Homo sapiens: one gene and its partners. The protein of the gene in region 2 interacts with the protein of the main gene of each other region in a biochemical or structural test. Each region holds a gene or a part of one and is shown on either strand. Other genes may lie near its edges. The genes, in order: BRAF, IQGAP1, EZR and PIP5K1C.

The links.
Region 1: the proteins of IQGAP1 (region 2) and BRAF form a complex in vitro, tested with the Homo sapiens proteins (2 studies listed by BioGRID and IntAct).
Region 3: the proteins of IQGAP1 (region 2) and EZR form a complex in vitro, tested with the Homo sapiens proteins (one study listed by BioGRID).
Region 4: the proteins of IQGAP1 (region 2) and PIP5K1C form a complex in vitro, tested with the Homo sapiens proteins (one study listed by IntAct).

Annotation. Positions count from the first base shown.
Region 1 is NC_000007.14:140,774,928-140,782,173, forward strand, and holds part of BRAF (serine/threonine-protein kinase B-raf), read right to left. Parts: intron 6,767-7,246; coding exon 6,649-6,766; intron 3,149-6,648; coding exon 3,064-3,148; intron 2,162-3,063; coding exon 1,985-2,161; intron 1-1,984. UniProt on the Homo sapiens protein: Protein kinase involved in the transduction of mitogenic signals from the cell membrane to the nucleus. Phosphorylates MAP2K1, and thereby activates the MAP kinase signal transduction pathway. Phosphorylates PFKFB2.
Region 2 is NC_000015.10:90,482,177-90,489,422, forward strand, and holds part of IQGAP1 (ras GTPase-activating-like protein IQGAP1), read left to right. Parts: intron 1-20; coding exon 21-105; intron 106-525; coding exon of another isoform or gene 526-546; exon of another isoform or gene 547-573; intron 574-1,184; coding exon 1,185-1,417; intron 1,418-2,043; coding exon 2,044-2,176; intron 2,177-3,853; coding exon 3,854-3,956; intron 3,957-4,777; coding exon 4,778-4,913; intron 4,914-5,318; coding exon 5,319-5,406; intron 5,407-7,246. UniProt on the Homo sapiens protein: Plays a crucial role in regulating the dynamics and assembly of the actin cytoskeleton.
Region 3 is NC_000006.12:158,809,123-158,816,368, forward strand, and holds part of EZR (ezrin), read right to left. Parts: intron 1-7,246. UniProt on the Homo sapiens protein: Probably involved in connections of major cytoskeletal structures to the plasma membrane. In epithelial cells, required for the formation of microvilli and membrane ruffles on the apical pole. Along with PLEKHG6, required for normal macropinocytosis.
Region 4 is NC_000019.10:3,641,251-3,648,496, reverse strand, and holds part of PIP5K1C (phosphatidylinositol 4-phosphate 5-kinase type-1 gamma), read left to right. Parts: intron 1-1,110; coding exon 1,111-1,159; intron 1,160-2,438; coding exon 2,439-2,523; intron 2,524-4,245; coding exon 4,246-4,410; intron 4,411-5,115; coding exon 5,116-5,254; intron 5,255-5,557; coding exon 5,558-5,590; intron 5,591-6,687; coding exon 6,688-6,792; intron 6,793-7,246. UniProt on the Homo sapiens protein: Catalyzes the phosphorylation of phosphatidylinositol 4-phosphate (PtdIns(4)P/PI4P) to form phosphatidylinositol 4,5-bisphosphate (PtdIns(4,5)P2/PIP2), a lipid second messenger that regulates several cellular processes such as signal transduction, vesicle trafficking, actin cytoskeleton dynamics, cell adhesion, and cell motility.

The DNA of each region.
Region 1 (7,246 bases), on a different chromosome or scaffold from region 2:
GAGTATGCCAGGTCCCATTCTAGGCATTAGGCATAAAATAATGAAAAAAAGCCCCTGCTCTCATACAGCCTGCATTCTAGTGGGGATAAAAGACAAGAAACAAGTCAGATGGAGCTATGCGTTATAAAGAAAATCAAGCCTATGGGTATAGAGAGTGACAGAGTGACGTGGGGACATGTTAGTTATATAAGGTGAGCAAGGATTTCTATTAAAAGGGGACATATGAACCGAGACACAAGGATATTTGTGGCATGTGTATCCTAAAGAGAATATAACAAACATAAAGGTCCTAAAGAAGGAACACGCTTGGCCTGCTGAAGAAATTGCAAAGAGACCAGTGGTGTGGGAAGAGAATAAGCCTTTGTTTCTCACTGAATGTTCACAATCTTTGCCATGGTTTACTCTTCACAAGATTTTAATTCTTTTTTTTTTTTTTTGAGACGGAATTTTGCTCTTGTTGCCCAGGCTGGAGTGCAATGGTGTGATCTTGGCCCACTGCAACCTCTGCCTCCCGGGTTCAAGTGATTCTTCTGCCTTAGCCTCCCAAGTAGCTGGGATTACAGGCTTGTGCCTGGCTCATTTTGTATTTTTAGTAGAGACGGGGTTTCTCCATGTTGGTCAGGCTAGTCTTGAACTCCCGACCTCAGGTGATCCGCCTGCCTCGGCCTCCCATAGTTCTGGGATTACAAGTGTGAGCCACTGTGCCTGGCCAAGATTTTAATTCTTTAAAAGCCTTTAGATTCGAACAGATTCAGAGATTCTAACTTATCTGAAACGTTGAGATTGTTTCAAGTCTAGGGGTAAGTGGGGGTGTTACTGAATAAGGTAATAATTTGCTGTAATAAGTATTTTGGCCGAATATAGGCTTGTAAACAATCTAAATTATAGATATATTGCCTAGTTTTGAGAAAGAGAAGGTGGTATAGTTGGAAGATCTAAGAGCCAGATCTGGTTTAGAGTCTTGGCTCTATACTTACTTGCTAGGAGCAATACTCAGTTAGAGTTGTAGGTGTTAGTACATATATACCCTTTTACTCTTTTATTCTAATTTTGTAATGTAAAAGTAGCATAGTGGTTATGGGGAAAGAATACTGGATTGGGAGTCAGAAATCCTGAGTTAAACACCTTTGGTGCCACTTATTAAATGTGTGCCCTTAGACAAGGAACTTAAAAGCCTCAATTTCCTTATCTGTAAAAAGAAAAAAGATCTCCTTCATAACATTATAAAGATTAAATGACATAATAATCTATGTAAGTGAAAGCAATTTGTAAAAAACAAAATTCAGATCATATCTATTTTTAAACTTCTCACAGAGCTTTCAAATTCATATTTTACTGAGTTTATAATTTTCACCTAAGTGCTTTCAAAATTTGTTTAATTTTACCTTTTAATTTACCTATTCATTTGCACTTAAGAGTTGCAAAATTTAAAATTTATCCTTCAAAGTCAGTTCCCCATATTAGCTTATGGTAAACTTTATAAAATAACTCCTTAAATTGCATAGCAAAATTCAACAGATAGGAACTCACTCTGAAATCCTCAAAAAGGGTCAGAATGCAGATTTTTCACTTTAACTTTATTAACTGACCATTTTGCAACCAAAAATACGGGCACTCAGAGAAACTGATTTGAAAAAGTAACTAACAACCATTCTGTTTACTTGCACAACTGCTAACAACTTTTTAGCAGGTTTTTGCTGTTTCTATCTTCTGAACCTCTCTTGCTTAGCTCAATCACTGAGTGCTAAGCCTAAGTTTGCAGTCATGTATTTATTATCAAATACTTGATATATGTTCTGAAGGCTGCACTAGACAGAGACATTTATTTTTTAGTATCATATTATTTACCAGCCATTAGTTAGCATCCTTATGTTCCTGGACAGTAATTTAAAATGCAATCCAAAAGAATAGCAGCCAAAACCTTTAAAACATCCTCAATGGTCTTCAAAAATAATTTACAAGACATTTAACGAATGGAACTTACTCCATGCCCTGTGCAGTCTGTCGTGCAATATCTATAAGTTTGATCATCTCAAATTTGGTCTCAATGATATGGAGATGGTGATACAAGCTGGAGCCCTCACACCACTGGGTAACAATAGCCAGTTGTGGCTTTGTGGAATAGCCCATGAAGAGTAGGATATTCACATGTCGTGTTTTCCTGTACAAAGAAATGTGACAGTAAACATTAAATGTCGACAAACTTTAGCAATTCTTACAAAAGAGAACCAAAGTAGTCTGTCGGTAAAATGTTGTCAGAAAAAGCTTTTTTTTTTTTAAAAAAGGCAACAAAAGGATACATTTAGAAGAGACTGGCAATTGCCAAGTCTAACCTCCTACTTTATGCAGAGATATCTTTTTAAATATATCTGACAGGCAACTAGAGGTTGCTTAAATACCTTCAACTATGGGAAGTTCATCACTCAGTTGTAGCTGACTCTCATATCTTTATTTAAGTGGTTCTGGTATTATAAAGTTTCCAAGTGTTGAGACAAAATCATTTTCTTACAACTTTCACCTCTGGCTTGCTTCCCTGGTCTGCTCTCTGGAATAACTTTTTTTTCCGCACTCTGGAATAACTGTGCACTCTCTTGAACATAACAGCCTTCTGTGAACTAAATATCCTCAGTTCTGTTGATTATTTTCCCCCGTTACACCTCTAGAATCTTCCCTATTTAGGTGGTCCTCACTAGGCATATCCTAGTTTGTCAATGTTTCTAAAATTCCAGAGCCCAGGACTAAATACCACCTCTAAATGTATTCTGATAAGCTTAAAACTGGAGAGTATTCTTTTCATAAGTAGAACTATTACTTTATATTATCAGAATACTATACTTCCATTAATTCAGTCTAGGACTAAGTATTCTATCAGCCATACCATATAACATTGCATACTACTTAAAAGAATGTGGTTAAAGACAAAAATATACTCAGACATACTCTGTTTCTACAAATTTATTCATTTTGAGTAAATCTGTAAAGCTAATAGTTGCTACCACTGGGAACCAGGAGCTAATAAAAATAACTTCTTTCTCTGGAAAAGAGTAATTCACACAAGCTCACCTGAGTACTCCTACTTCATTTTTGAAGGCTTGTAACTGCTGAGGTGTAGGTGCTGTCACATTCAACATTTTCACTGCCACATCACCTAAAAGGCAATTGTTACTCCAAGTGTCATTTCAATTTTTAAAATTTAAAAGTATAAAACATTCTTGGGTGTTTTCACTAATTATCATAGCCCTAACTCCATACCATTATTAAATCACAAATAAATTATACTTTAGCTATCTAAACTCCATTTGTTTTCTAAGGCTAAAAATTCAACTAACAATGATATTCCTGTACTAGTATTTCAAAATATCAATCCAAAAAATAGCCAACCTTGTTTGTTCCATGGAAATTTGGTAAAATCAATTAAGTACCCATGGTATTTTCCAAATTATTTGACAATATTAAATTATACTTACTAGGCTTAATATTTATTTACTAACTGAAACTGCAAGTAATGTTGAAACTACAATTACCAGGCCCTATGGAATTTTGCTTAAAAGTAGGAAACTATAAAACTTTTTTATCAGAGTAGTTAACATTTTTTTCAAATTTATGGATTACTTATGATACTTTCAATTAGGAAAATGACTAAAACTGTCACTAAAATTTAAAAAAAACTTCATGTGAGTTAATGGGTGCAGCACACCAGCATGGCACATGTATATATATGTAACTAACCTGCACACTTTGCACATGTACCCTAAAACTTAAAAGTATAATAATAATAAAAAAAGAAAATGATATTTTATTAAAATCATCAAAAAAAAAAAACTTTATGTGAAACAGCTGTAACGTCAACACTGCCAGTAGGTGTTTAAATTGGTACAACTACTTTGTAACATTGTTGGCAGCATTACTAAAACTGGACATATGCATACCCTGTGGTCTCACAATTCTGTCCTAGGTATATATACCCATCAATGGTTACATGTTCACCAAAAGACATACACTAAAAATGTTTACAGCACCAGCATCAATCAAAGCCCCAAACTGGAAACGATCCAATTGCAACAGATGAAAGAAGAAATCATGTTATAGTCACACAATGAAATACTGTAAAGAGAATGAATGACCTCCAACTTCACACAACAATATAGATGAATCTTATAAACAATGTTGAGTGAAAAGGGCCGACACAAAAGAGTACACACTATGCACTTCCTGTTGTAATCACAGTGGTGGTTACCCTTGGGAGAGAGGTGATTGGCTAGAAGAGGACATGGGAGGGTGTTTCTAGAGTGCTAGTAATGTTCTGTTTATTTAATTTTTTTAGAGACAGAGTCTTGCTCTGTCACCTAGGCTGGATGGAGTGCAGTGGTGTGATCATGGCTCACTGCAGCCTTGAACTCCTGGGCTCAAGCCATTCTCCCACCTCAGCCTCCTCAATAGCTGGGAGTACAGGCACATGCCACCATGCCTGGCTAATTTATGTGCACTTTTATACACAGGCTGAGTATCCCTTATCCAAAATGCCTGGGACCAGAAGTGTCTCAAATTTCAAATTTTTTCTGATTTTGGAATATTTTGATTATACTTACCAGTTTAACATCCCTAATCCAAACATATGAAATCCTCCAATAAGCATTTCCTTTGAGCATCATGTCAGCACTCAGAAAGTTTTGGATTTTGGAGCATTTCGGGTTTGGGATTTTGGATTAAAGATACCCAACCTGGCCAGGTGTGCTGCCTCACACCTGTAATCCCAGCACTTTGGAAGGCCAAGGTGGGTGGCTCACCTGAGGTCAGGAGTTTGAGAACAGCCTGGCCAACATGGCAAAACTCGTCTCTACTCAAAATACAAAAATTAGCCAGGGGTGGTGGTACGCGCCTATAATCCTAGCTACTCAGGAGGCTGAGGTAGGAGAACTGCTTGAATCTGGGAGGCAGAGGTTGTAGTGAGTTGAGATTGTGCCACTGCACTCCAGCCTGGGCGACAGAGCGAGACCTTGTCTCAAAACAAAACAAAACAAACAAAAATAAATAAATAAAGATACTCAACCTGTATGTATATTTTAATAAGTTAAATCAACATTGATTTTCCTCAATTATCAAAGTAATACAGTGCTTATTCTACTGTTTGTATCATAAAATACTGTACAGCACTTAAGAAAAGTTTAAAGACATTTTGAAGGTATAAAAAAATTCCCTTAATTATGTCACTCAAAAGTGACATTATATGTTATTAGGCTTTTACATGAATTTAGTGTGAATATTTATGAACACCTGTGAAAAGATAGATTAAGGAGATAAAAACTAAAACACAGTCTTTTTTTTTTTTTTTTTTAAGACAGTCTCGCTGTTATCCAGGTTGGAGTGCAATGGCGGGATCTCGGCTCACTGCAACCTCCACCTCCTAGGTTCAAGCAATTCTCCTGCCTCAGCCTCCTGAGTAGCTGAGATTACAGGCGCCCACCACCAAGCCTGGCTAATTTTTTGTATTTTTAGTAGAGATGAGGTTTCACTATGTTGGCCAAGCTGGTCTCGAACTCCTGACCTTGGGTGATCCACCTGCCTCGGCCTCCCAAAGTGCTGGGATTACAGGCGTGAGCCACTGTGCCTGGCCTAAAATACTGTCATATAAAAAATTATGTTATATATTTCTATGAGCTCCATAATATGGTATCTTACACATACTGCTTTGAAAAATTTCATATACCAAAGACACCTTTCTACATCAATAAATGTACCTCTACCATGCCATTTTAACTCCTATATAATCACATATGATGGTATAAATTTATCCAATTCTCTATTAGTTGGATACATGTTCACTTTCACTTTTCATTGATATTAAACCTTTGATGAAAATACATCCACTACTCTTAATATAATCCAATTTAAAAAGATTTTGTCCAACTAAGAGGCAAATAATGATGTCTATTTTTTGAATTTGCAATTCTTTGATAACTAGTAAGGCTGAACATTTTGTATATGTTTACTGGCCACTTATATTTCTTTGTTAATTTTTTTTTTTTGAGACGGAGTCTCACTGTCACCAGGGTGGAGTGCAGTGGCGTAATCTCAGCTCACTGCAACCTCCGCCTCCTGGGTTCCAGTGATTCTCCTGCCTCAGCCTCCCAAGTAGCTGGGACTACAGGCACGTGCTTCCACACCCAGCTAATTTTTGTATTTTTAGTAGAGATGGGGTTTCACCATGTTGGCCAGTATGGTCTTGATCTCCTGACCTCGTGATCAGCCAGCCTCAGCTTCCCAAAGTGCTGGGATTACAGGCATAAGCCACTGCGCCCAGCCATTAAGTACATTTTTAATATGTTTACTTGTGACTTATAATACAAATAAAATTATCAGCTGAAAGACTCTAAAAGAAAATAAAATCCTTTTGAGGACTAGTTAACCTGGAGGAATTCCCCTTTAAAAATTATTACTGTAATAAAATGGTAGGAGTCCCGACTGCTGTGAACAGTTTTTATTTCCCATAATTTTTGTTAGAAACTTTTGGAGGAGTCCTGAAACTAATCAAAATAGTTTATTGATGCGAACAGTGAATATTTCCTTTGATGATATTTTTTACAAAATAAAAGTTGTTAAACATATCCTATTATGACTTGTCACAATGTCACCACATTACATACTTACCATGCCACTTTCCCTTGTAGACTGTTCCAAATGATCCAGATCCAATTCTTTGTCCCACTGTAATCTGCCCATCAGGAATCTCCCAATCATCACTCGAGTCCCGTCTACCAAGTGTTTTCTTGATAAAAACAGTAAAAAAGTCAAGTCAAGCCAAACAGAAAAAGAAAACCTTATGTTTCACCCTAAGTACATTACCTTATGCCTGAGAGGGATACAGGAAGAGATCCCCTTAAGAAAAATTCTCTGGAAGAATAGTAGTTAAAAGTATGACTCTTAAAATACAAAACTTAAATTTAAGACTGAAGTCAATATTAGGATGGAAAAAATTTATTTTTATTTTTTATTTTATTATACTTTAAGTTCTAGGGTACATGTGCACAACTTGCAGGTTTGTTACTTATGTATACATGTGCCATGTTGGTGTGCTGCACCCATTAACTTGTCATTTACATTAGGTATTTCTCTTAATGCTGTCCCTCTCCCCTCCCCCTACCCCATGACAGGTCCCAGTGTGTGATGTTCCCTGCCCTGTGTCCAAGTGTTCTCACTGTTCAATTCCCACCTATGAGTGAGAACATGTGGTGTTTGGTTTTCTGTC
Region 2 (7,246 bases):
AAGTTTTGTCCATCCCGCAGTTATGGGATGCGCTTCATTGCCAAAGTGCTGAAGGACTCGTTGCATGAGAAGTTCCCTGATGCTGGTGAGGATGAGCTGCTGAAGGTAAGAATCTCATAGCCGGCAGACTCCTGCCCTTTGAGGACAAAGCAATAAAACCAGGGCTGACCATAGATCATTACTAACTGCCTAAGTGTAGGTTCTGGCAGTAGCTTACCATTGATTGTGAGCTTTTGAAAGCAATTGTAATTGGTAAATGGTACCTCTCTTAGGATGAAACACTTCCTATAGTTTGGCACACAAACATCAAACAAGTAGAAAGATGGATTTTTCCTGTTTTCAGATGAGTTTCTTTGAGTCCTATCTTTTCGCTGTAGTATTGTTCCCTCTGCTGGTGACCTGGCGAATAGTAGCAGGCACAGTTGTTTCTGCTAAGGCTGTTGCTGATAACTCTTTCTTACTCAGCTATGCTCTTCTCTTTTCTTTTTTTTTTTAATCTGAATGCTTTTTTCTTCTCTCTCCTAGTTCTGTGCTTTCCTACAGTGAGGCCTCGATTCTAGACTTTCTGTTCAGGTGAATTAATTTTATTTCTTCTGAATGAAACTCTAGGGGAAATGCTGTGACTGCCCCTGAATTCTTCTGTGGAAGAGATGTGTGTTAAGTGAATTTAATTTCAGAGGCATGAACTTGGCCTTTGAAGTCTGCAGCATGAGAATGTTGGGAGGTGGGGTTACTCTATGCTGATTGGGTCATGTTAAGGAATTTAGCTATGTTTGTTAGCTTTTTATAAGGAAAGCCCATCTACATGAAAGTACAAAGTGCATGTGGGTGACAGCAGCCTTATTTGCTACCATGATATGTGAACAAAAGATGCCCTGAAATACTTAATAACAGACTTTAAGTGTGTCATTTTTACCTTCTGAATCTGCTCTTTCATTAACTACTGGCAGTAGTTTTCAGTTCTGTTCTCATTGTTTTCCTGTATTGAACAAAGGGATATTTCATTTAGTTCCAGGCCATGAGAGAGAGTGTGTATATGTGCATGCATGCGTGTGTATATGTATTTTTTATTTATTTTTTCCTCATAGGACTGCATTTTCTGCTTTTCTTTGCTAGCAAAGTCATTTATAGCTTCCTTGGTGGTATGTCTTTTAATACCCATCTTTCTGTTTCGTCTGTTCCAGATTATTGGTAACTTGCTTTATTATCGATACATGAATCCAGCCATTGTTGCTCCTGATGCCTTTGACATCATTGACCTGTCAGCAGGAGGCCAGCTTACCACAGACCAACGCCGAAATCTGGGCTCCATTGCAAAAATGCTTCAGCATGCTGCTTCCAATAAGATGTTTCTGGGAGATAATGCCCACTTAAGCATCATTAATGAATATCTTTCCCAGTCCTACCAGAAATTCAGGTAAGGGGAAAGGCACAAGTGCTTAAGAGAGTCTGTGGATGTATTTTTATTGTTGAGGGGAAAAATAAGATTAAAAACCACCTCTCACTTTCCCCGGACTGCCATATGTAGAAGACGTGTTTGATGTGCCCAGGATTCCAGAAGATGATCCATTTACTTTGAAGAGAATTTTCATATGAAATAGATAGTAGTTAACACTTATGAAATAGATAGTAGTTAACATAAAAATAATGATGATTATGCATTTAGTACATGTTACCTTGTAATCAGAGAAGAATTGGAGAATGCTTTTAATTTTTGTAAATTAACATCTAGTTTTGAATTCAGTGCTTCAGAGCACTGTCTTAGAGATAGAATTGGTTCTCCTAATGGTGTCTGGAAACTTTTAAGTCATGGTGCAATGGTTCTTATGGGTAAAACTAAAACTACAAACTAGGTGGAGAAAGAAGTTATTCGAACCACTATCCCAAGGTTGTCAAGCACAGCAAACACACAGCACTTTCTCTTGAAGTAACTGTTGACTGGCTTCTGTTTGCACTCATTGTGTGAGAGGTTTGTGAAATGTCCTCTTGCCAACTTCATGTGTATGTCCCTTTTTGGGGGGCTGCCTCCTGTGCTTATTTCAGACGGTTTTTCCAAACTGCTTGTGATGTCCCAGAGCTTCAGGATAAATTTAATGTGGATGAGTACTCTGATTTAGTAACCCTCACCAAACCAGTAATCTACATTTCCATTGGTGAAATCATCAACACCCACACTGTAAGTATTTTTCTTTAATTACTTAATTTCATTGTCCTTAATTATTATCCCTGGCTGCTGCTTATCATCTCTGGTAGCCAGGTGTCTAACCTTCCTGTAATCTAACTGACAATGCATCTCCTTGATGTCTCTTTTTTTGCTTGTTATTCTTTTTTGTTTATTTATTTATTTTTTGAGACAGAGTCTCACTGTGTTGCCCAGGCTGGAGTGCAGTGGCGCGATCTCGGCTCACTGCAAGCTCCACCTCCTGGGTTCACACCATTCTCCTGCCTCAGCCTCCCGAGTAGCTGGGACTACAGGCACCCGCCACCGTGCCTGGCTAAATTTTTTGAATTTTTGGTAGAGACGGGGTTTCACTGTGTTAGCCAGCATGGTGTCGATATCCTGACCTCATGATCTGCCCACCTCGGCCCCCAAAAGTGCTGGGATTACAGGCGTGAGCCACCACGCCTGGCCTTTTGCTTGTTATTCTTAACAGTATCTACTGCTAAGTTTCTAAAAGGTCTTCCCAGGCCACCTGCATCAGAATCCTATGGGCTGATAGTTAAAAATGAAGTTTCCTGGACACCGCCCCAGGCCTACTGAATCAAAATCCCACTAAATTTATCTATTGCCTTAATAAAATAGTGCTTTTACTCTTCTTTCTTTTTACCCTAGCTCTCTGCGTTATTTTTCTAACATGATCTAGAATACTAGCTTTCTCTGTGTAGCCTTGGAGTGGATTTTTCCCTTGGAAGCTGGAGCTCCATGTTTCTTCAGATTTTTCAAATCATTTTTTCCCCTCTGGGGACATGGACATGTAAAACAGGAACAAGGGCATATGTTAAAATGTAAATGAAATTTCAGGTTACTGTCATTTCTGAGGGCATCACTGGGGATAATGGCACCTTGAAGACTTTGTTGAGTGCCCCTACAATAATTATAACATTGATTTGGTATACTTTTCTCTGAATTAAATCATGTCATACACTGGAAACATTAAGTAAAAGCGTGCACGTGACTTATTTGAACTGGCAGTAGGGTACATTGATGACTTTGGGTATTGAACTTTGAGTTTCAGTGTTTTGTGGGTTTTTTGTGTTTGTTTGTTTTGTTTTGTTTTTTTGAGATGGAGTCTTGCTCTGTCACTCAGGCTGGAGTGCAATGGCGCAATCTTGGCTCACTGCAACCTCCACCTACTGGGTTCAAGCAATTCTTCTGCATCAGCCTCCCTAGTAGCTGGGATTACAGGCACACACCAGCACGCCCAGCTAATTTTTGTATTTTTAGTAGAGACAGGGTTTCATCATGTTGTCCAGGCTGGTCTTGAACGCCTGACCTCAGGTGATCCACCCGCCTTGGCTTCCCAAAATGCTAGAATTACAGACGTGAGCCACTGCACCCAGCCAGTGTTCTTTCTCAAACAGGGCACATTTGAATCCTTTATGGCCATGAGGTTAAGAGAATACCAGTATTTCCTCTTCTTATATCATAACATAAGTCATTCAACAGAGCCTGGTGTGGTGCCTTATATATCATATTGTTTATTTGGGTTAGTTTGCTGAGGATTTGCTTGTTGTTTCTTTGAATATAGGAACTTTGTTGGAACCTCTTTGTGCAGATCATTGTTAGACATTCTAGGGAGGGACGGGCTGAAGAGTTGAATGTATAAATGGAGTTGATCATTGGTGTTTGCAGCTCCTGTTGGATCACCAGGATGCCATTGCTCCGGAGCACAATGATCCAATCCACGAACTGCTGGACGACCTCGGCGAGGTGCCCACCATCGAGTCCCTGATAGGTAGAGTTCTAACTTTTGCCTGGAAGATCAAAAGGGAATGTGACAGAAAAGTGTTGTAATTGTCACCTCCTCTATTTTTTGCACTATACCAAACTCTGGATATACATTGAGAAATAAAATAGATGTGATCCTGATAGTTTCATAAGAGAGAAAACAACAACAACAACAAAAGCCCAGATGTGATCAATATCTATAAGGAACTGGAGTCAGAGGAAAAGATCATTTTAAACGCAGATACATACTGCCAGCTTGTGTTTTTTTAAAAAAATTGCAGATACATAAATTAAAAGTCCTCTAAAGGAAAGAATTTTTTTGTTTGTTTGTTATGAGACAGGGTCTCCCTCTGTTGCCCAGGCTGAAGTACAGTGGTGCAGTCATAGCTCACTGCAGCCTCAAATTCCTAGGCTCAAGTGATCCTCCTGAGTTGTTTTTTTTTTTTTTAATAGAGATGGAGTCTCACTATGTTGCCCAGGCTGGTCTCGAACTCCTGGCCTCAAGCCATCCTCCTCCTTTAGCCTTCCAAAGTGCTGGGATTGCAGGACTGAGCCACTGCACCCAGCCAGAAAGAATGTTTTCAGAGAGAATTGTGATATTGTAGTGTTGAAATGATTTCTCAAACATTTATGGAGTTATTATGGATCCCTTGCCTTTATCATTTGGCATAACATTTTATTTCTCAGTAAAAGTTGTTCTCGTCACACTGTATGTGTTAGGTGATTCAAGTATTATCTTAGACTTGCATCATCTTATATTTGTATTATTTCCCCCCAATATCTCCTCTCTTTATTACGCTGACTCTTTCCACCCTCCCAAAACTTCAGGGGAAAGCTCTGGCAATTTAAATGACCCAAATAAGGAGGCACTGGCTAAGACGGAAGTGTCTCTCACCCTGACCAACAAGTTCGACGTGCCTGGAGATGAGAATGCAGAAATGGATGCTCGAACCATCTTACTGAAGTGAGTATCAAAAGAAGGAAGAATGAAATGAATGTAATCTGAAGGTTTCTTGGCCTTTGGAGAGGAACCTGCTGGGTCCTACCTGAAATGACCATCCTGACCTCTCGTACTTGTCATAATCCCAGTCACCAATCACCTCGCATATTGTACTTGGTACAGGACTTATCTGCCTTATTTTGCTAATATGCTACAGTGAAATGTAAATCTTGGAAATCCTAACCCTCGTACCTACTTATGGAATGGCTGGGTAAATAAGCCTTGTGCCTTGAGTACTGTGTACTGGCAGCTGCCGCTTGGGACTTCTGTGAGGTACTGTTTGTGCTGCTGCTGCTGCTGCTGCTTCGGTCCACTTGAGAGGAACTAGAACACTGGTAATATTTAAATGCCTCCCCCATCTCGTTTCAGTACAAAACGTTTAATTGTGGATGTCATCCGGTTCCAGCCAGGAGAGACCTTGACTGAAATCCTAGAAACACCAGCCACCAGTGAACAGGTAAAATTTAGGGTCTAACATACTCCTTTGTTTGGTAGATAAGCTCTCCCGATAGGCGCATGTCAGAGAAAGGAGGGGAGACACAAATAACAGTTGGTAGCCTAGGGGTGAGCATGAATGTAACTGGGGGACAGTGGTAGTTATGGCTCGTCTGAGAAAGTTTTTGCTTCCTGAGTCCAGGTGATGTCCTTTGGACAGGAAGCTCACTGGCACTTGCATGCAGAATCATTGTGCCCATCCCGTATATCCATCCCTTGGTATCCACAGGCGATTCTTTCCAGCACCCATTCTCCCCACCCCCGGCCAATACCAAAATCCATAGATGTTGAAGTCCCTTATATAAAATGGTGTAGTATTTGGCCGGGCATGGTGGCTCATGCCTGTAATCCCAGCACTTTGGGAGGCTGAGGTGGGTAGTTCACGAGGTCAGGAGATTGTGACCATCCTGGCTAACACGTGAAACCCCGTCTCTACTAAAAATACAAAAAATTAGCCAGGCTAGGTGGTAGATGCCTGTAGTCCCAGCTACTTGGGAGGCTGAGGCAGGAGAATGGCATGTACCCAGGAGGCGGAGCCTGCATTGAGCCAAGATCGCACCACTGCACTCCAGCCTGGGCGACAGAGCGAGACTCCGTCTCAAAAAATAATAATAAATAAATAAATAAATAAATAAATAAATAAAATGTTGTAGTATTTGCATATACTTACGTTCTCCCATATACTTTAAATCATCTCTAGACTACTTATAATACCTACTACAATATAAATGCTGTGTAAATAGTTGTTACTGTATTTTTAAAATTTGTATTATTTTGTATTGTTGTATTTTTTTTTCAAACAGTTTCAGGGTTGGTTGAAACCATGAATGTGTAGGGTTCACTGCAATTTATTGAATATTATATATTTTGAATTCTGTTACATGCCTTGGTAGATAGAAGAAAAGTACAGAATGTGGCTCCTAAACTCAGTGAACCCATGGTCTTGTTGGGGAAATGTGACATATATACCTGAAACAGTGATGAACTGTTTCAAAATTAACTATGTTACTGACTGAAAAATAAGAGAAGTTTCAGGAAAGAGGCCAGTGAAGCAGTGCATTAGGAAGCTTCCTAAAAGAAGTGGAACCGGAGCCAGATGTATAAAGGTGGAAAGGATTTGGGTGTGCATGTAAGACAAGAGAGGGCATTCGAGGCAGGAGAGCGATGTGAACAAAGGTACAAAGGAGGGAAGAGCATGATGCGACTAGACTACATGTCTAGAATGGAGCTGTGGGTGGAGGTGAGTAGTGAGAAATAAAACATGAGACCAAATTATTTAGAACTCACAAACTAGATGGGAATTTGTCACTGCAGAGATAAGGAATAAAGAGCCTCTGTAAGGTTGAAGACCATTTAATAAAAGTTAATTAATTCAGCAGTGCTATTAGAGCAGATGTAGTTGAGTCATATAGGTGTGTGATAAGGTCCAGTGGGGTGGGCAGATGGTTGGGTCCTGGCATTTTGTAGGGTTGGATGAGTCATGTCATATCTAAGACCCTTGTTTCTTTTTTTTTTTTTTTTTTAATTTGAGACAGAGTCTCACTCTCACTCAGGCTGGACTGCAGTGGCGTGATCTTGGCTCACTGCAACCTCCGCCTCCTGGGTTCAAGCGATTCTCCTGCCTCAGCCTCCCGAGTAGCTGGACTACAGGTGTGAACCACCACACCTGGCTAATTTTTGTATTTTTAGTAGAGACAGGATTTCACGATGTTGGCCAGGCTGGTCTCAAACTCTTGACCTCAAATGACCCACCCACTGTGGCCTCTCAAAGTGCTGGGATTACAGGTGTGAGCCACTGCACC
Region 3 (7,246 bases), on a different chromosome or scaffold from region 2:
CTTGCTTTGCTGCCAGAAAAGACAAAAAGCACAAATAAACAAGCACCTGACAGCGTTATAGGTGGAGACCGAGTTCTATGAGTGCAGTAAAGTGGGGCACGGCACAGAGATGGAGCTGTACTTTAGACAGGGTGTTCTGAATCAGGAATGGACTTACAAAACATCTGCAGTCAGAAATTCACATACAGACTATAGTAGATCAAAAGCTCATTTTAAACTATCAATGAGGAAAAAAGCAATTCATTTACATAACATTCTCTTTCCAACTCAAACATCAGGTACAAATTGCTTTCTTTTAGCATATGCCAGAAATCTGTCATTACACAATAGCTTAGCAAGTGTGACACAAGATACTGCCACTTTCTCTACACAAAGACCCACCCAAACACCAGCTTTGTTTAAAACATTACCTCAGCACCACGATGCCTCTCCTCAGTAGTTTCTGAGTCCATGCTCAGAGTCCATGATGTGCTCAACATTGGCTAACAAAACACATTCTGTTCTTTGAGAACAATTTTTTAAAAACTGGAACCAATGGGGTGGATCTGCTTCCAAATATTAGTCCAGCCATAAAATATATACAAGGTTAGAATAAATGCTTAACAATAATTATTTTTATGCTAGAAGCAGGAGTTGGTCCATTTGTTTCTCTAAAGAGCCAGCCAGTAAGTATTTTAGGCTTTGAGGGTCTTACTTGGAGTCCGTTGCATATTGTTGTTTTTAAAATCCTTCAAAAATATAAAAACCATTTTTAGCTGGGAGACCAAATAAAAACAGGCCACAGCCAGACTCGGCCCTAAGATGATAGTTTACCTACCCCATCCTAAAGTAAAAACAATTATTTACAGTATCTGAAATGACAACTGTCCACACAGGCAGTTTAAAATTGATCTCTCAGGCAAAAATGGAAAACAAAATTAGGTTGCAGAAGTGACTTCTAACTTAAAAATATGAGCAAAATCTGATATACTGACTACTAGAGTTTGATCCTCAGGTGATACTGGTTCCTCTCCTATCAATAAAAGGTGGGTCATGGTGAGATATTTTTTATTTTGCTTTTAAGGTTTTGTTTTCAAGTATATTAGATTAAAAGGATAACTTAATGAAGTTTTACATTTCCTTTGAAACAGCATTACTGTTTGCCTGTAAGTGTTAAGAACGGGTTAATGAATAAAGGAAAACAGAACTGACCACTGCTGACTGGGAAGCCCACATCCCTCCACACTTACCCAAAGGATCTTACCAGCCGGGAGGCCCTCCCTGGTCTCCAGGGCACACTTCTCTTCTGTGAAGACCTCTATCATGCACTACACTGCATTGTAATTGCTTACATATCTGCTTTCACTAGGAGACTGAGAACTCCTTAAAGGCAAAACCAATCTTATTTTTATTGTCCCTGCACCAAGCACATAATGGGATATAATAGCGCTTCAAAACATGAAGGTGGTACCCATGTGACTGATAAGGGAATTCCGACTAGAACACACAGAGAGAGGATGGACATGAGACAAAATCAGAGTCCTCCCTTTTACTAAGATAACCCAAACTGTTCATATTGCTTTTTCCTTGAGAAGACCAATGGACAAACTTTACCCGTTTATAGGAACCCAGAGTTTTTACCTAACAGGGTTAAGTTTGAAAAACATTTGCGGGGTAGGGAAACACAAAAGAAACACATAAAGCTTACAGCATCTTAAGATGAGTTGTTTGGATTTCACTGATAAAAACTTTGTCTCCGTTTATCTTATGTAACATTCTTTCCACTTAAAAACTAACTCCCATTTTACGGCTGACGAAATTTAGGTTCACAGATGCTAAATGGCTTCCCCAAATACAGGTAAGCAGTAAATTAGCTATGAAATTCTCTTTATAGCTCTTTGTGGTTTCATTTTGAAAAAAATTATGTGTATTAACTATATCAAGCATTTCAGTCAAAAGTCTCTAAGTCACATTATAGCACAAGGGTTTTGTTTGGTTCTGAAAACTACCCAAGTCTGGAAAAATCTTTTTATGTCAACAGGCATGGATGGTAAATACATCAGAAGGAAAATAATGCAAACTTTGGTCTTTTCAACACACATTTACTGCTGAAATTAAAAACTAATTGGAGTACTTGGGGAGTCTCAAGGTAGTTACTACTGAAATGAAATAAGGGATAATTCAAAATGCATTCACTGACTTTGAAAGCAGACTGAATTTCACTGCTTCAGAATAGAGCTGAAACATCTAACTACCATTAGAAAGCAGACTGAATTTCACTGCTTCAGAATAGAGCTGAAACATCTAACTACCATTAGAAAGCAGGTATATCAAACCACCCTAAGAATCTCCAAATTGTCAAAGAGATATAAAAGTTTAAGTTAAAAAAATTAAGAAAAAAATTATAGTTCACTAAATGATACTGTTTTCCTTTCCCAAACTATAATTATTCAACATTTGTTAGAAATCACATTATCAGCCAGGCATGGTGGCTCACACCTATAATCTCAACATTTTGGAAGGCCAAGGTAGGAGGATAGCTTGAGCTCAGGAATTTGAGACTAGCCGCCTGGGCCACACAGTGAGATCTTGTTTCACAAAAAAATAAAAAATTAGCTGGGTGTGGTAGTGTGTGCCTGTGGTCCCAGTTACCCAGGAGGCTGAGGTGGGAAGATCACTTGAGCCAAGGGTGGGGGCCGGGGCACTGAGGCTGCAGTGAGCTGTGACTGTGCCACTGCACTCCAGCCTGGGTGACAGAGTGAGACCCTGTTTCCAAAAAAAAAAAATTCACATTATTTCATTAACAAAAGAGGCCAGTGTGGAAGGAATAAAAGAGGAACAAGGAATGGGATCTCTTACTTCCCTACCATTTATAGGGAAGGTCTAGCCTCTTTTTTTCTCTTTGAAAACAAAGAGCCAAAATGTGAGAGACCACTGGGCACTGCCAAATGAAGCTGTTACTGGACTCCCTGCAGAGAGAAACTCAAGTCAGAAGAATATTATGTTGAATGGCCTGCCCAAGTATAGGTAAGCAGTAAATTAGCTATGAAATTCTTGTTTTTATGGCTCTTTTTCACAGAGTCATCCTAGCCCCTATTCGAGTCCCAAATACCAATAACAGCACTCCTGGCATTTCAGCCGGACTGTAAGGCGGCTGGGCATCAAGTGACTGCTTTCACCCAAATGGGTGCTCTGAAATCACACTGGGCTTGATTGGGGTGCAGGAGAAAGGAATATATAATAACTGCCCTTTTCCTATTGAATCAGCAGTACCATCTGGAGAGCTTATTTAAAACATAAGCACCCAGCCTGCACCTCACCCTAGAGATGGAAGTCATTAGTTCTTCAAGGGACCCAGGAATCAACAGTCTCCAGACAATTGTGTACACAAAATTTTGAGAACACTGCACTAAATTAACCCTTCCTCTTAACTTTAGGTATGTACGGTGTGTACATATACTAGGGAAAACAAAAAGCTACTGAATTATTTGGATTTAAAAATAACGTAGTTTAAGGAGTCTGGTCCTTTAATATTTTGGGGGGCAGTGGATGTAGTAATGAAAGAAGGCAAGGACTTTTTTCATCAACGATTGTCACAAACTTATTAACATGTAACAACAAATCCAGACTCCCCACCTTCCCCCACACCTGGTCCTTCTCCAGGATTACTTACCTCAGCGATGGCACCACCACACATCCACTTGCGCAAGCCAGAAACGAGAAGTCAGCCTCGACACCACCCTTGGCCCTGCATATCCAACCCATCACCAGGCACTATCAATTCTACCTCCCAAAGAACTCTCAAATGCATCCACTTCTGTTCCCACCACCACCACCTTGGTCCAAGCTATGAGCTCCCTCAATGGTCTACCATAACTACCCTTGCTGTCTCCTGCCTCCTGTGATTTTCCTATTACAGATCACAGTCAACTTTTCAAAAGGCAAATCTGATCATGTCACCTCCCAGTCAAAACCCCAAGTTAAACTAAAAAACACCCAAGAATGGCTTACAAGGCATGGCCTGACCTGTCTTCCTCTCTAGCCACATTGGGCTTCATGTGAAACCCCAAACTCACACTACTTCCTCCCACCACAGGGCCTTTGCACACGTTGTTACCTCTGCCCAGGGAGGTCACGTCCTCAAGGATGCCTTCCTGACCTCCCCTATTTGCACCCCCACCAGCACATACACACTTCATCTACTCTCAGGCCTCATGTACCCCTCTTCAGGCATACTCTCTGAAGCTGCAGTTTTACATTTACTCTGGGATTGCTGTCTGTCCCCGAAACCAGACTGTAAATCCACTGACAGGGACTGTGTCTGTGAACATCCAAATACATTCATTGTGCCTTACAGCGTGATCATGGCAAATCACTCATCCTACCAGCACCTCTCACTGCCACATGGCAAAATGTTAGCTACCTAATTCACCACTGCCCCTCGTGGAGGAGGAGGGGTGGAAACAGATGCTACGCATCCTCCTCAATTGCGAGGGGATTGTGAGGGGGGAGTACATTCAGTAAACTGTCCCTGTTAAAATATTTAATAGAAAAGGTTATGTATTCCCAAAGAGGCAAGGTAATCTCAGAAATTACCTTAAAATTTTGGCACAGTAGAAATGTGAACACACTTTCAGAGTTTTCCTAATGAAAGGTAAACCTGCTTTTGTATTAGAAATGTCTATAACACTTCAGAAATGAACAGGTAAGATGTGTTGGAGCCACTTAAAGGCAGTTCAGCTCTATGGTTCTCATGACAGCTTAAAGAGATCTCAGCCCTGAACACAATCCCCTTTTCCTTCCAGAGCTTAACTACAGCAGTGTTCCTTGCTCACTCCCCATGCCTTCTTTCCACTGGGCAGAAGAAAGCAAGTGTGGGAGAAAGGCGCTCCGCAGTCACCCTAACATGAAGGGGCGGGCAGAGAGGATGCTTCCGGGACCAATGATCTGAGCACCAACTCCTACAACTCTCCCTAGATGGGGCAGACCCACAAGGCCACACAGCACACCATGTCCTGGGGACTGGCCTGAACAGAGGCCAAGGCTCCCTCTGGAACCCCAAATCACCCTCCTTGGACGTCAGCCAGTCACACATGAATAGAGTCCCTAAGCAGCTGTGGGAAAAGCAAAACCAGACAACAAACCACAGCTGTTCCTCCCTGTGGAGTGCTGCCGCGTGCGCCCCCCAGCCCTCAAGCAAGATTCAGCTGAAGTGTTACTTCTCAATACAGTCTGCCAATTTCCCCATCAGATGATTTTCCTTTCCCCATCAGATTTTCCTCTCGACGTTACCTAGGCTCTTTCCCAGTCTGACAGCACTTAGCGGGTTTTCAATTTCAGCATTTACCCCGCATCTTGGCCCAGGTACCAGACACTAAGCTTCCAGAGAACAAGGTCTGCCTCGCCCTCTGTGCAGGTCACTCCGCTTGCTGATGAATAAAGTCTTTTTTTTTTTTTTTTTGAGACAGAGTCTCACTCTGTCGCCAGGCTGGAGTGCAGTGGTGCAATCTCAGCTCACTGCAACCTTCACCTCCCAGGTTCAAGCGATTCTCCTGCCTCAGCCTCCCAAGTAGCTGGGACTACAGGCATCCATACCACGCCCGGCTAATTTTTGTATTTTTAGTAGAGATGGGGTTTCACCATGTTGACCAGGATAGTCTTGATCTCTTGACCTTGTGATCCGCCCACCTCGGCCTCCCAAAGTGCTGGGATTACTGCCATGAGCCACTGTGTACCGCCTCAGTCTTTTAAGTAACTGTTGCTTTTGGGAAACAGTATTAGGAGAAAACACAGGAAATGAGTATTTTCAGTTATACTGTTTTATGAATAAAGTCATCCACTCACTCAGTTCAGGCAAATCAATCAAAAATACTTTGCCCGTTGAATTCAAGGGTTAACAGTTGCAATGAATCAGGTGGAAGGCCAACTACTCAGAGGTATCCATCCTTTAAGTGTGTTTGCCCCTTAATCCAGTTGTTAAACATTAAGCCCAAGAAAACCACCTAACATTCTTCGCTAACATTCTTAACTTAGGCTTGAATAATTAGAATCAATAAACCTTTGTTTAAAGGACACATCCACAGAGCTGTTGGTGGATGTTTCATTTTAACATTTACTAAGGCAGCAAAAAAACCCCAAACCAAACCAAAACTAACTGGATCCTCTCTAACAGCCTTAAGAAATGTCATATTCAAATATGTGCAACCTACGATGCTCTTCTCAGTGATTTGTGGGATGGCTCTAATATAATTTACACACAGAAAGGCTTAGTGTGTTTAACTTATCTCTAAGACCCTCCTCTGCCAAAGAGGGGGCAGGGAGAAATTTCCCATGGCAGACAGGTATGGCTGACCTAAAAGGAAGCCTCTCAAAAAAGGGGTTTTGTTTGTTTTCAGACAACATCTCACTCTGCTGCCCAGGCTGGAATGCAGTGGCTTGATCTTAGTTCACTGCAGCCTTGACCTCCAGGGCTCATCAAGCAATCCTCCCACTTCAGCCTCAGTCAGAGCGCCAGCCACCACACCCAGATAATTTTTCTATTTTTTGTAGAAACAGAGTCTATGTTGGCCAGGCAAGTCTCGAACTCCTGGGCTCATGTGATCTGCCTGCCTCAGCCTCCCAAAGTGCTGGGATTACAGGCTCGTGCCTGTAATCAGGCCACCTCGCCTGGCCTCAAAAAAAGTTTAAAAATTTTAATTGTAGATATTATACAGAATACAGTCTTTCAAAGAGTAACTCTGGCTCTAATACACAAGGTGATGGCTACTGTCTTTCCTTAACAGTTTCACAACTATCTTCACTTTATCAAATGTCAGAAACATCTTTTAAGTTCTGATCTATCATAAAAGACCTCTAAAACAAAATGAAATGAAAACATACCTGCCATAAGAAATAAGAGAGAGAAGGGAGTTCTGACATTGCAACATGGATGAACCTTGAAGACATTATGCTACAGGAAATGAGACTGTCACAAAAGGACAAATGCTATCACGATTCCACCTGCATGAGGTATCTAAAGTTGTCGAATTCATAGAGACAGAAAGTAGAATGGTGGTTGCCAAGGGCTGGTGGTGGGGATGGGGAGGGAGAGTTTAATAGGTACAGAGTTTCAATCTGGGAAGATAAAGTTCTGGAGATGGACCTTGGTGATGGCTATGTAACAATGTAAATGTACTTAATACCTTGAAATGTAAACCTAAAAGTAAGAGGATAAACTGTATATTTTACCAAAATACAAAAAAGAAACCATAAAAATAAATTACCATTC
Region 4 (7,246 bases), on a different chromosome or scaffold from region 2:
TGCAGTCCCACAGGTGGATGGGCGCCCCCAGGACACCCATGCACAGAGGCGCTTGCCCGTGGAAACAGCCGCACCAGCAGCTCTCGGGGCTTCCTCAACCTGGAAAGCTCTTGCTTGGCTGCCCCTTCTTGAGCCCTAAAGGGAAGGTGTTTGGTCGCCTTGAAAATCTAGAGTGAGTTGGGCGTAGTGGTCCACACCTGTAATCTAGCACTGTGGGAGGCCGAGGCGGGAGGATTGCTTGAGCCCAGGAGTTTGAGACCAGCCTGGGCAACATAGCAAGACCCCATCTCTACAAAATATCAAAAAATTAGCTGAGCGTGGTGGTGCTCCTGCAGTCCCAGCTACTTGGGAGGCCGAGGCAGGAGGATTCCTTGGGCCCAGGAGTCTGGGGCTGCAGCAGTGAGCTATGATGGCCGTACTGCACCCCAGGCTGGGTGACAGAGCAAGACCCTGTCCCAAAAAAAAAGAAAAAAGAAAATCCAAGGAGTGGGTTTGAGGCCTCACTTTGGGGCTCGAATATTTGTTTTTTGGTTTTTCATTTGTTTGTTTTAAGACAAAGTCTCGCTCTGTCACTCAGGCCGAAGAGCATTGGTGCGATCTTGGCTCACTGCAACCTCTGCCTTCTGAGTCGACCCTATTCTCCTGCCCCAGCCTCCCCAGTAGCTGGGATTACTGGCACGCGCCAGCACGCCCGGCTAATTTTTGTATTTTTAGTAGAGATGGGGTTTCACCATGTTGGCCAGGCTGGTCTTGAACTCCTGATCTCAGGTGATCTGCCTGCCTTGGCCTCCCAAAGTGCTGGGATTACAGGTGTGAGCCACCGTGCTCAGCTGGGGCTCTAGAATGTTTAAAAACAGTCACCCCCTCGGTACTATGGACATTGGGACCAGATGGTTCTCTGGGGTGGGGCCGTCCTGGGCCCTGCAGGGTACTGAGCAGAGAGCCTCCACCCACTCCCTGCCAGGAGCACCTGCCACCCTGAGTTTTGACAGCCACGACTGCTTGAGGCCATGGCCCAGTGTCCTGGGGGGTGCACAGTGGCCCCTGAGTGAGGTGGCCTGGCATGGGCTTGGCTGATGTCAGCTGCCACTCCGGGTGCTCTCTCCACAGGTTCATCAAGAAACTGGAGCACACCTGGAAGGCCCTCGTCCACGATGGGGTGAGCGCCTGCACCCTCCTCCCATTCCTCCTCCCATCCCTCCTCCTCCTGTGAGTGCCTGCACCCTCCTCCCATCCCTCCTCCCTCTGTGAGTGCCTGCACCCTCCTCCCATCCCTCCTCCCATCCCTCCTCCTCCTGTGAGTGCCTGCACCCTCCTCCCATCCCTCCTCTGTGAGTGCCTGCACCCTCCTCCCATCCCTCCTCTGTGAGTGCCTGCACCCTCCCCCCATCCCTCCTCCCTCTGTGAGCGCCTGCACCCTCCTCCCATCCCTCCTCCCTCTGTGAGCACCTGCACCCCTCCTCCCATCCCTCCTCCCTCTGTGAGCGCCTGCACCCTCCTCCCATCCTTCCTCCCTGTGAGCGCCTGCACCCCTCCTCCCATCCCTCCTCCCTCTGTGAGTGCCTGCACCCCTCCTCCCATCCTTCCTCCCTCTGTCCTCCTGTCTGTCGTCCCAGCCTTCCTCCCATCCGTCACTCCACAAACGCAGAGTACCGCCTGGGGCCAGGCACTGAGGACTAACGTCTGTGTGACCACAGCCTGTAGAATCCAAGATCCCAACAGGCACCCCCATTTTTCAAAAGAGCGTGTAGAAGGTCCAGGCAGGAGCTTCCAGAATAAGCCTTGAGCGGGTCAGGATGGCAGCTGGCAGAGGCCTCTGGGGATGTCTTAAACCTTGCCAAGGCCCGGAACCTGCTGCCCAGGGCAGATAGGAGCGCTGTCTCGGCTCTGACGAGGCTGGCCAGGGTGTCCTGTGCTGCCGCCGCATGTCCCTGGGGTTGTCCTTGTCCCCTGGCCCAGAGTGGCCGGGCACCACCTCCCACTGCAGCCTGCGGGGGTGGAGTCGTTCACAGTCCTGGTACGTGGCCACTCCTCACCCAAGGAGGCTGGGAAAGGAGGTTGCATTCTGGGAGGCCGAGATCACATCCCAGCAGGGCCCCAGCCAGGCCATCCTGCCTCAGCCTCCCCTACAAGTCCACGTGGGCCACTGTGCCTGGCCGGAATACTTTATTCAGCTGGTTTAAAAAGTCAAAAATGCTAACAGGTCTCTAGTGGAAAAGCCTCCACCCATTCCCTGGCACCCAGTCTCCCTCCCCAGAGGGAGCCACTGTTCCCTGTTCCGTGAGCCCCTCCCAGGAAGCCATGGCGCCATGGACCCATCTCGAGCCTTTTCACACAGAAGGTGCCCCCCACACACATACAGCGTCTGTCTGGGGCTGTCCCCAGCTGTTGATTGATGCACCCTCTGCCCCCGGGCACCCCCCCCAACTCTCTTCCAGGACACGGTGTCCGTCCACCGCCCCAGCTTCTATGCCGAGCGCTTTTTCAAGTTCATGAGCAACACGGTCTTTCGGAAGAACTCCTGTAAGCCACCTGAGCCCCGCAAGGCGGGAGGGACCCTGGGGAAGGCCCAGAGCGCCGTGGGGCAGGAGGGACTCTGCGGGAGGCCGAGAGCCCCCTGGGCAGGGCAGTAAACTCAGAGCCCCTGTGCCCCCCTCAGACCGGGCCTCATCCGGAGGTAGGGTAGTCGGGATATTTGCTCTGCACAGCGGTAGAGCACGGGTCTGGAGCCACCGCCAGAGCCTGAATCCTAGCCTGGCCTCGTCCTGCCCATGTGGCCTTGAGCAGGCACCTGCCTCTGTGCCTTGGTTTCCCCATTGGCACAGCACTGTGAGGGTACAGTGTTTATATATGGGATGGGTGGGCCTGACTCAGCAGATAGCTCACAGTGTGTGGGGCTGCCCACAGCATCACCATCGCCAAGGAAACGCACCCCGGGCAGGGGAACGCAGGAGGCTAGCCCAGCAGGGCATGGTCGGGAAGGTCCCAGGGCAAACAGTGGTGGGGAAGGTGGGGACTCGGGATTCACCCACAGGGTGCCCGGGGGAGGTCCCCATCTCTCAGGGCTCAGCTTCCCCTCATGGGCCACTGTAGCATCTGGACGCAGACTCTGGGTTCCAGGCCCCTGTGCAGACCTCAGCCCGTGGCCAACCTGCTGCCAGATGGATTCCCCCCTGGGGTCTGTTTCTCAGCCACCCTCCCCACCAGAAGGCTCCCGGGCTCCCCAGCATCCTGCACAGGCCTGGCCCACAGAGATGCTTGGGAAGTGTCTGGTGGGGGGCATGAATGATCTGCGGGTCCGCACCCACGGGGGTTGCAGGGAGGTGGCAGGGACAGGCACGCCAGTGCCCAGCGCTTGCAGGCAGGCTGCTCTTCCCGGCCTGCACACTTGCTCACGGCCTCGAGGTCAGGGACCCCCTCTCATCAACACCGTGGGAATTGGCAGACACCACGTGTCAGGATCTGTCTCCAGAGAGCCAGCCGTTGAGCCTGTCCCCACACCCCACTCTCTGGGACCGATGCCACAGGATCATTCCGTCATCCAGGGCTGTTTGCCAGCCTTTGGTGATTGTAGGAAGCTGCACAAGGCAAACTGAGCACCTACTGTTTACCAGGAGCTGTGTGGGTCATTCTGGGGGCAGAGGTCACAAGAGCTTGGTGAGGAGGCAGAGCTCACACAGCACTGAGGACAGGCCTGGCCCTGTGCGGGACATCACCTGCCCCACCTCACCCCACCGCTAAGGTCGGCCCCCAGGGCCCAGAGAGACCGAGCCGCACAGCCAGCGGGTGAGCCTGGATCTGCGCTCAGGCCCTACATGCTGAGCCACAGGCTTCTCTAACCACAACACCTGGTGCTCCCCAAGGCTGTCAGTGTCCATCTGAAAGTGGGGGCCCTGCCCGGGCTGGGCCGCACATAGAAGGGGTTGAAGCCTGCAGGCATCCCTGGCCAGCTCATTAGATGGGAGTCACTGGTCTGCAGGATCCCAGGAGGGGCAGGCACTGTGCCAGGTCCCAGTGTGTCTCATAGAGACAGTCGGGTGGGCAGGACAGGGAACTCGGGCTCGCAGTCCCTCCCCAGGCAGACCCCGGTTTTCCACCAAGAGGTTGTGGTGCTTCCTGGCCTCAGGGACCGGTAGGGGTCTGGTGGGCCACAGGGACGTGGGGTATATGTGGGCGGCGGCCCTGTCTGGGCTTTGCTATGAGCCCCCAGCAACCCCAAGCACCAACCCCCACCCTTCCCTGCAGCCCTGAAGTCCTCGCCCTCCAAGAAGGGGCGCGGCGGAGCCTTGCTAGCTGTGAAACCGCTGGGGCCCACCGCTGCCTTCTCGGCCAGCCAGATCCCTAGCGAGCGGGAGGAGGCCCAGTACGACCTGCGGGGGGCCCGCAGCTACCCCACGCTGGAGGACGAAGGTGAGGGGCAGAGGGCAGAGTGCGCTTGTGGGCGCTACAGGGGGTGCCAGCAGCAGCCCCGTGGGTGGGGTGCCGCCTCATCCTGAGTGCCCATCGCTCAGCCACCCCCTCCGGATCTGCAGGGCCGCCTGCCCAGGGAGTGGGGGCTGCTGGGACCGCCCCAGGGAAGAGCCCAGGGGGAGCTGAGTATAGAAGGCTCCACCAGGTGGGGTGGTGACAGCTCCCGCCTTCTCTCACGGCCACTGTCATCTGAGGTGCACCAGGATGCCATCGAAGGCATGCAGCCCCCAGGCTAGGGAATGAAGGAAGGGACATAGCCATGCAAGGGCCCTGGGGCAGGACCACACCTGCTGAGGGAACAGCAAGGAGCCCGTGTGGCCAAGCAGCGCGGAGGGGAAGGGAGGGGGGGTGGGGAGGGGAAGAGAGCAGTGGAGGGGAAGACAGCGGGGAGGGAGAGTGGAGAGGGGACGGGGCCAGGCTGCACAGGGCCCTCTGGGCTGTCTGGATTCTATTTTGAGAGCGGTCAGAAGCCTTTGTGTGAGGGGGAACGTCGTCCTTCCCTGCCGTGTGGGGAGGTGGGAGTGTCTGGGAGGCGGGCGGGCACTGGGCTGTGGGTTCCCAGGGTGAGCCAAGCCTCAGGGAGAATCGACTGTGTGTTTGGGGGCTCGGAGGCTCCGCAAGGTGCCCACAGTCCTCTCCCCTCAGGCCGGCCCGACCTCCTGCCCTGCACGCCACCTTCTTTCGAAGAAGCCACTACAGCCTCCATTGCCACGACTCTGTCATCCACATCCCTCTCCATTCCTGAGCGGTCCCCCTCGGAGACGTCGGAGCAGCCGCGGTACAGGTGGGCGAGGCATCCGCAGTGCATGTGGGCGGGGCATCCGCTGTGCGTGGGGGCGGGGCATTCACTGCATGTGGGCGGGGCATCCGCTGTGCATGTGGGTGGAGCATCGTATGTACGGTGGATGTACATACACTGCATGTGGGTGCGCGGGGGCGGAGCATCCAATGTGTGGGAGGGAGGAGCATATGTACAGGTGGGCAGGGCTGCCAGGGGGCAGGTAGGCAGGCGGGTAGGCAAGGCAGGTAGACTGAGCAGGCGGGCCACTCTCTTTCTGGGTGTCACGTGTTTGCTGTATCTCTGCAGGCGGCGCACACAGTCGTCTGGACAGGATGGCAGGTGAGACCCAACCCCCTTCCTTCCCTGGGTCTCACCAGCTCCTCCTGCACAGCTCCCAGCTCCGTTTCCCGCCCCCCAGCCCCTCTGCTCTCTGCCCATTCTCTCCTGGGGACAGATTTAAGATTGTAGCACTCGGCCCTAGCACCGCACACAATCTTCCAGCCACTTTGTTTTTCTTACAGCCAGAGCCAGGGCAGCTCTGGTCTGTGGATCCTTCCTTATTTCTTCTTCTATTAAGTTTTTTTTTTAACTTAAAACAAGATACAAGAGGGAATATCGTGAAATGCGCCCCCTCCTGCCCACGGCCTGTCCCCTCCCCAGGAGCAACCACTGGGACTGTGGGTTTTGTCTCTTGGAAGATACTTTCTGGGAACACAGCAGACGTGCACCAGGCTTGTGGTTCCCTTTTATTTTGACACAAATGGGCACACCCGTGCACGCCGCCCACACCTTGCTGTTGTCACTCGACTGACGGGGATCTCAGGGGTGGGTGCGCGCCGTTCCTGTCACGCCTGCGTGCCGTCCTTCCATCCCATGGACTGCACCTGGCTTTAAGTGCCCAGCCCTCGGGGACATTTGCGAGGTCCCTGGGGTCTCACTCTTGTGAACACTGGGGCAGTGGCGCGGTGTTGCTTTTCTTAACCGTGTTTTAATCGCTGCCGCCTGGTGAAAGAAACCCCTTGGTGCCCTGGGTGGGATGTGACCCTCCCTGCAGTCTAGCGTGCCATTTGGAGAGACATGTTACATGGCCAGGCCCGGCGGCCGGGACACTGAGTCACTTGTGTCAGGGCCTCGGCTGCCAGGTGCAGGCACTGCCTGGAGGGTGGGCAGGGTCTGTGGCACCCACACCGGTCGGGGCTGCCATTTGCTCATATGCCCCCAGAGCCCGCTACACCCCAGGCCCTGCTGGCACCACAGTCACCAAGGGACCCAGGTGGACAGTCCCCGGGCTGGGAGTGACAGCCAGAAAGAACAGACCCAATCAGGAGGCTCCCAACTCCCCTCTGGGACTGGCCCTGGAGTTCACTGGGCACTCCTGGGGGTAGGATGGGGGAAGTGAGGAGGGAAACCGAGGCACAACCTCCCATTGCCTGCAGGCCGCAGGAGGAGCCACCCGCGGAAGAGGATCTGCAGCAGATTACAGTGCAGGTGGAGCCTGCGTGCAGCGTGGAGATTGTGGTCCCCAAAGAGGAGGACGCAGGGTGAGCACGGCCTCGGCGGGAGGTCGGGGCGCCCACCTGCTGCGGGCCCAGAGGAGCCAAGAGCACCCCGAGGTTTCATCATGAAGCAGTTCTTTCTTACTAGGTTGTATTCACAGATGGTGGATTTTCCCATAAGTTTATTTTTTGATTGAAGGGAGTGGTTCTCGACTAGCCGGGGTGATCCTAGCCCCCAGGGGACACTGGGCGATGCCTGGGGACATTTGTGACTGTTAGAACTGGGGGGTGCTCCTGGCATGGAGTGGGTGGAGGCCAGGGACGCTGCTCAGCATCAGCCTGCAGTGCCCGGGATGGCCCCACCCCAGAGAAGGACCTGGTTCCAGTGTCCACAGGGCCCAGGCAAGAGACCCTGGGCTAAGGGTTGTGTAAGAGCATCTCTGAACTTCCAAGTATTTAACTAATTTTTTTTTAACCTTTTTAGTATTTATTAATTTAA